Linked DNA regions of Homo sapiens. The protein of the gene in region 1 purifies or fractionates together with the protein of each later gene. This does not show direct contact. Each region holds a gene or a part of one and is shown on either strand. Other genes may lie near its edges.

Region 1 (3,920 bases):
ATTTGTATTATCCCATTTAATCCTCACACTAATCCTAGGAACTATCCCTATTTTACAGAAGTTGAAACTAAGTAACGATTACTCCTGGTGAAATCTGCAAATCTGCTTCACCTTTGAGCACACAGCACGCACAAAGCCCAGGGTGGAGAAAGCGAAGTCTTACCATCTTTAGGTGCTGGGGTAAAACGTGGGGAGATGGCAGAGCAACTGGAAACTTAGAGGAGGAACTCCAGAAGCAACAGAACCACAGAAAGGATGAACCCCAAAATCTGAGAATTAACTTCCCAAATCCCTGAGTGACCACTATATTACAAAGGCACAGGGTAAACCTCCAGGACTAAAAAAGCAGCAAAGCTGAAAAAACTGAGCAGACATTAGCTGCCACACATCACATGAGACAGAGTTTATAGTTTGAGTATAGGCAAGTTAACTGCCTACTAAAACAAGAAAACCTATACTTTTCAGAGAATAAAGCAGTTTCTAGAAACAAAACATTCAGGAGTTACTACTACATATTATCTACACATCTAGGTTTCAGTTAAAAAAATTACTAGATATGAAAAGAAACAGGAAAGCGTGATTCATATTTAGGGGAAAAAAGCAATCAACAGAAGCTGAATCCAAGTGGTCCTAAGTGTTGGATTTGGTAAAGACTTCAAAGCAGCTGTTATGAATATGTCCAAAGATTTTTTTACAAATATAGTATAAGTAAATAAATAAGGAATCTCGAAAAGGAAATTTACTCTAAAAAAGAACCAGGCCCAGTGTGGTGGCTCACGCCTGTAATCCCAGTACTTTCACTTTGGGAGGCCGAGGCGGGCGGATCACGAGGTCAAGAGATCGAGACCATCCTGGCCAACATGGTGAAACCTCATCTCTACTAAAAATACAAAAATTAGCTGGGCATGGTGGCACACACCTGTAGTCCCAGCTACTCAGGAGGCTGAGGCAGAAGAATCACTTGAACCCGGGAGTCGGTGGCTGCAGTGAGCCCAGATCGTGCCACTGCACTCCAGCCTGACGACAGAGTGAGACTGTCTCAAAAAAAAAAAAAAAAAAAAAAAAAAAAGGAAAAAGAAAAAAAAGGAAATTCTAAAGCTGAAGTGTACAATAAGCAAAATTTACTAGCCCAGTTCAATAGCAGAGGTGAGATGGCAAAAGAAAAAAATTTATAACCTTGAAGACAGAACAGAAATTATCTAATTTAGGTCAAGCCCAGTGGTTCATGCCTATAATCCCAGCACTTTGGGAGACTGAGGCAGGCAGCTGCTTGAGCTCAGGAGTTTGAAACCAGCCTGGGCAAAATGGCAAAACCCTGTCTCTACAAAAAATACAAATATTAGCCAGGCATTGGTGGGGAGCACCTGTAGTCCCAGCTACTCTGGAGGCTGAGGTGGGATGATCACTTGAGCCTGGGAGGCAGAGGTTTCAGTGAGCCAAGATCATCACGCCACTGCACCACTGCACCACTCCAGCCGAGGTGTCAGAGCGAGACCCTATCTCAAAAAAAAAAAGGAAAAGAAATTATCTAATGCAAAGATTAGAGAGAAACAAGGTTGGGGGAAAAAACAAGAACATAGTTTTAGAGGCAGAGATAAGGACAACATCAAGCAATCCAACACTTACATTAAAGGTAAATGAACTAAACACTTAAAAGTCAGAGACCGAAGCTGGGCGCAGTGGCTCACAACCTGTAATCCCAGCAACTGGGAGGCCAAGGCAGGTGGATCACTTGAGGTTGGGAGTTCGAGACCAGCCTGACCAACATGGAGAAACCCCGTCTCGCCAGGCATGGTGGCTCATGCCTGTAATCCGAGCACTTTGGGAGGCTGAGGCAGGCGGATCACGAGGTCAGGAGTTCGAGACCAGCCTGGCCAACGTGGTGAAACCCCGTCTCTACTAAAAATACAAAAATTAGCTGGGTGTGGTGGCGCATGCCTGTAATCCCAGCTACCCAAGAGGCTGAGGTAGGAGAACTGCTTGAACCGGGACCCGGGAGGCAGAGGTTGCGGTGAGCTGAGATCATGCCATTGCACTCCAGCATGGGCAACAAGAGTGAAACTCTGTCTCAAAAGGAGAAAAAAAAAAAAAAGAAACCCCTTCTCTACTAAAAAAATATAAAATTAAATTAGCCGGGCGTGGTTTAGAGGCGCATGCCTCTAATCCCAGCTACTCGGGAGGCTGAGGCAGGAGAATCACTTGAACCTGGGAGGTGGAGGTTGCGGTGAGCCGAGATTGCGCCATTGCACTTCCAGCCTGGGCAACAAGAGTAAAACTCCGTCTCAAAAAAAAAAAGTCAGAGACAGAGACTGGGTTAGATAAAAATCAAGATCCAACTATGTGCTGTGTAGGAGCTCCACTTTAAATACAAAGACAGATTGACAGAGGATTACTAGAGTCAAAGGAAGTCATTTCATAATAAAAGAATAAATCAGGCAGGGAGATAAAACAATTAGAAATGTATATGCACCAGTAGTAACAGAGCTCCAAAATACATGAAGCAAACACTGAGAGAACTAAAAGAAGAAAGACAAATTAGCAAGGATAGATGGAGATTTCAATACTCCTCTTAGTAAATAATAGAAGGGTAGAAAAAAATCAGTAACACTATGTAAGACTTGAACATTATCAATCGACTTTGCCTAATTCTCATTTACAGAATATTCCATTCAGCAAAAGAATATACATTTTTTCAAGCACACATGGGACACTCATCCAGACAGACCACATATTAGAATAAAACAAATCTCAATAAATTTAAAAGGACTAAAACCATAGAGCATGTTCTCTGAAAAACAGACTTAAGGACTTTCACTTACAAAATCATTACAAGGGTGGCGACAGGACTTCGTTTTTAGTGATAAAGTCTACACACCCTTCTCCTTATAGTATCCGCAGAGCCTAAAAGGATAGTGAGGAAACATTCCATGAAAAAAATCCTTCCAGCTTTTATACCTCAGAAAATGGGATGTATTTTTGGTTCTTCTGCTTTAGTATGCCTGACTTGAGGTCATTACTGAGGCTGGAACTTTCACGCCACAGGTGGCTCTGAAATATGCAATCTATAGTTCTTTAAAGACTTCCAATTTCTTATCAGATTATTGTATATTACACCCTGTTAAGTCTGTAGTAATAAATACGGCTTTTACAAATAGGAACTATAATTTTAACTTGAGTCAAATGAGTATGCCTTAAGCCTAAGATGAAAAGAATAAAAAATACAGCAGTTTGCCTGAATTTGCCTGTCTCTGCAGAACTCACTGATGCCTCCAGGGGCTTTGAATCCACAAACATGTGCATGCACAGAGCTGTATTTACTGGGGTAAGGAGCCTAGAAAAAGATTTGGATGTGCCGTGATACAGGAAAGATGACCATCTAGAGCAGGGGTATTCAATCCTTTGGCTTCCCTGGGCCACACTGGAAGAATTGTTTTGGGCCACACATAAAATACACTAACACTAAAGATAGCTAATCAGCTTTAAAAAAAAAAATTGCAAAAAAATCTCATAATGTTTTAAGAAAGTTTATGAATTTGCATTGGGTCACAATCAAAGCCATCTTGGGCTGCATGCAGGCTGTGGGTTGGACAAGCTTGATATAGAGCATGAACTGGCAAACTACAGCCCCTGGACCAAATCTGTCCTGCAGCCCATAAATAAGGTCTATGGAATACAGCCATGTTCGTTCATTTACGTATTATCGATGACTGCTTTTGTACTATAAATAGAGTTGAAACTCGTGATAGATCCTTACCTTGAAAATGACATTAAAAAAAAAAAGTTGTGACAGAGACCATATGGACTGCAAAGACTTAAAGATTTACTACGTGGCCCTTACAAAAAGTTTGCCAACCCCTGATCTGGAGCAAAAATAGGCTGCTTAAAGTTGTATTAGGAAACAAATATTGAGATAGATCATT
Region 2 (3,920 bases), on another chromosome or scaffold:
CATTCAGAAGCCTGAAATCCTCATTTATTTTGGTTGTCCTTCTCTGTAGCTTTTTTAAATTTTATTTTGAGGTGGAGTCTCGCTCTGTTGCCCAGGCTGGAGTGCAGTGGCATGATCTCGGCTCACTGCAACCTCCGCCTCCCGGGTTCAAGTGATTCTCCTGCCTCAGCCTTCCAAGCACCTAAGATTACGGGTGCCTACCATCATGCCCAGCTAATTTTTTGTATTTTTAGTAGAGACAGGGTTTCACCGTGTTAGGCAGGATGGTCTTGATCTCCTAACCTCGTGATCCACCTGCCTTGGCCTCCCAAAGTGCTGGGATTACAGGCATCAGCCACCATGCCTGGCCCTCTGTAGCTTTTTTAGGTTCATGACTATTCCCAAAACATGAGGTGGCTTAACAATCGCTTTCTTGAACCTGAACTAGTAGAAAATGTTTTGTTCCCTACAGCAGGGGTTATTAAATTTAGCTTAACATTATGCCATAATTTCTTAAATCATTTCTTACTCATGGACTTTTAGAGATCAAATAATCCAATCTTTCGTAATCATAAGCAATGCTTCAATAAATATCTTCGTATATGTATCTATACCATGTGTTTGTCATAAATACATGCATACCTGTACCAAAAAAAAAAAAAAACTAGAGGAGGCCAGGAGCAGTGGCTCGTGTCTGTAATCCGAGCACTTCGGGAGGCCGAGGCAGGCGGATTCCCTGAAGTCAGGAGTTCGAGTCGAGACCAGCCTTGCCAACATGGTGAAACCTCATCTCTACTAAATATACAAAAATTAGCTGGGCATGGTGGCACACGTAATCCCAGCTACACAGGAGGCTGAGGCAGGAGAATTCCTTGAGCCCGGGAGACGGAGGATGTAGTTGAGCCAAGACTGTGCCACTGCACTCCAGCCTGACAGAGCGAGACTGTCTTTAAAAAAAAAAAAAAAAAAGCTAGAGGAAAACTTGACAAAGGGCTAGAGCTGTATTTTTAATGCTGACCCACTTATATTTTTAATGTTGACCCCCTATCACTCAATTCAATGGCTCTCCTGAAGGCTATCTTCTCTCAAAGAAACATGAGCTCATAAAACTAATAAAAAAAATTTTCTCAGTAATATTACACTTACCTTCATTTTAAGCCTAAAAATAATTTTTATTCTCAGTAATATTACACTTACCTTCCTTTAAGCCTAAACCCCTCCCCAAAATTGTTTACTTTTACTGGCAAAGGTAGCACAGCCAATGAAGAAAATTTTAAGTTTAAAATTCAGGCATATAAAAAATATAGATGACTTTAAACCTATCACGATAAACTACGGTTAATAAATCTTCAAAACTCACATTCTATCACTCCAAGTATCTGAAAATTCTTACATTTTCGGCTGAAAAAAGCCTTTCCACAACCTTCGAAAAGGAGATGTGTTTGAGATATTTTTTAAGTAGCCCCAGGAATCATGCAACTGGACAGTCTCTTAGAGATCAACTAATCCAACTAGGCCCAAGATTTTATTGTTGAGGAAAATGAGGTCACGGGACTTTAAGAGAGTAGACTACATCTGGACGAAATCAGAACCCCATGCTTCCTGCCCTGGACACTAGCTCTTGCCCTTGACACTACACAAGGGCATTCACTTACACAGATCAGTTATTATACTGTTGGTGCCTAAACCACCTTTCATGACATAAAGTAATCAATCAATTATTGATTGACACTTCATATCAGACTGTACTCAGTGTTGCAGGAGACTCATATGTATATAGCAGTCCTCAACATACATTTGGGGTGTGTGTGTGTGTGTGTGTGTGTGTGCGTGTGTGTATGCAATCCAAGGGCTTGGGGGCTGTAAGTACAGTTGGAAGCAGATGAGGAAGTGCACTGAGTACCAAAGAGTGAGCGACAAGGAATAAAAATCTAAGCAGAATTTAATCTAAATTTTCCTTAAAGAGACTATTATAACATAAATCATAATGTTTAAATCTACATCTTTCAAAAAGTCCCATTTAGCTTGTGAATTCACCTTGTTCTGCCTACTTTAGACCTATCACTTCATACATGCAGAAGATATAGCTCTTACTAAAACATTAATATGTATATACCTCTTCCTTGGCATGGATAAGGTTGTTTAATTAAAACTTACATGTATTTAGTTAAATACAAAGACTAGCATCTGCTCAAATTAACTGATGTCTTTTTCTGAAAAATTAAAATAAAAATAAAATTTTAGTAGAAAAAAACAGAAATGTGAGACACAGTGATTTGTTGGTACCAATTATGTTTCAACTTAAAACTCTTAACTTGAAAATACTTAGGTTCTAGCAAGTATACTGCTGTCAGAGCGAAATACTTATTCAGATGACAAAATCCAAATTTAAAAATCTATCACATTTTTAAATGGCTGACAAAAACCACCACCAAATCTAAGCAGTGCCTAAACTTGATTACTTTTTTGTATTTGAGCCAAAAGAACAAATCTGAATGTTAACCTGGGAAAAATGGTAGTGTATATACGAACACAACACTTCTTAAATAACAGCTCTGATTTTTAAAAATCACTCTTCTAACTTCATAATAACCCCTTGAAAAGAAGATGGGGATTTTAATCACTTAGGATTAAAAAAAATAGGATTTAAAGCAAGATTAACTGTTGCTTTAAGTCTTGACATTTCCCTATTAATAACCCTAAAGCTTAATGAGGCACAACAGATTTAAGAATTGAAATTGTTAATGAAAAAGAAAATTAAGGACAGTTTGGTGCTCTATACCATCATGAAAATAATCTGCTCCAGAAAGATTTTAGTCTCTACATGTAAAAAGCAAGAAATATCTAAAAAGTATTTCCTTGTAAAATCTCAGTCTGAACTTTTAGAAGGTTAGGGCAGACTTTGATGAAAGTATAAAAGTCAGAAAGTACCTATGGTTTAATATATAGTGTTTTAAAAACAAGTGAGGATACATAAAATACTGTTTTTCAAATTACACCTAGTATGTTTGTAACCTTTCACCTATTAGTAATGACCGCATGCCTCAAGTTAAGAAAAGCAAAGAAATATACATAACTGTGTCTAGTAAGTAAACTCTGAACACCAAGTTAACTCTTCTTATTTTCACAAGAACTTATGTTTCAAAAGCACATGAAAATCAAATAAATACTGAGAATAAACACGATTTACACTTAAAATCACTGCTGAATCCTTGCCACATTCTAGAACAAAGCTGCTTCTTTTTATGTATACTTCATATGTTGAATATTAATTTCTTTAAAATCTGTACCTAATAGGTGAAAAACACATAAGGTTTATCCATCGTTTTTCCAAGGTCCTCACGCAGGGTTGAAACCAGGATCTGTTAAGTCTTAGAAATGAATTTCTATGAACATTAAAATACTGTCCTAGATGCCCCATAACCCATACAAACGTATTTAAATTAGAACAATGGGGTTATGCAATTAAGATGTGAACTAGAAAAACAACACAGGTTTCTAATATATTAATTAACTAGGTCAATGGTAAAAGCAACATTGATTTTTTTTCTTAACAATAAACCTATGTAAAGATTTGAAAGTCACTTGTATTATTTAAAAGGAAAGCTAGTTATAACTTTGTGATATAATATTTTATACTTTTATCAGGTAAGCTGAATGCTCAAATTCGGATTTTTTAATATAAAAAAGGCTAACATCTTAAAATAAGACTAAAGAAAATCTTGATGTTGAACATCATAACATGCAAGATTGACTAGAATTATGTAAATCTACATAACAAGACTAACTAAACTAGTAATTTCTCTAAGTAAAATAAGGTACACAGACACTTCAGTTAACAATTCAAGGCACAGAGTCCTTTGAATATTCAATTATATTTAGCTTGTAAAAAAACAAGGGTGCTCCGTATCTGCACTAATAACCTACATATTCTCTTTTCT

Evidence for each region.
Region 2: the proteins of FBXO45 (region 1) and CDH2 purify together in Homo sapiens (affinity purification with mass spectrometry; 2 studies listed by BioGRID and IntAct, with this or other methods). This does not show direct contact.

What each region holds. Positions count from the first base shown.
Region 1 is NC_000003.12:196,578,373-196,582,292, reverse strand, and holds part of FBXO45 (F-box/SPRY domain-containing protein 1), read right to left. Parts: intron 1-3,920. UniProt on the Homo sapiens protein: Component of E3 ubiquitin ligase complex consisting of FBXO45, MYCBP2 and SKP1. Functions in substrate recognition but also plays an important role in assembly of the complex.
Region 2 is NC_000018.10:28,170,296-28,174,215, forward strand, and holds part of CDH2 (cadherin-2 isoform 1 preproprotein), read right to left. Parts: intron 1-3,920. UniProt on the Homo sapiens protein: Calcium-dependent cell adhesion protein; preferentially mediates homotypic cell-cell adhesion by dimerization with a CDH2 chain from another cell. Cadherins may thus contribute to the sorting of heterogeneous cell types.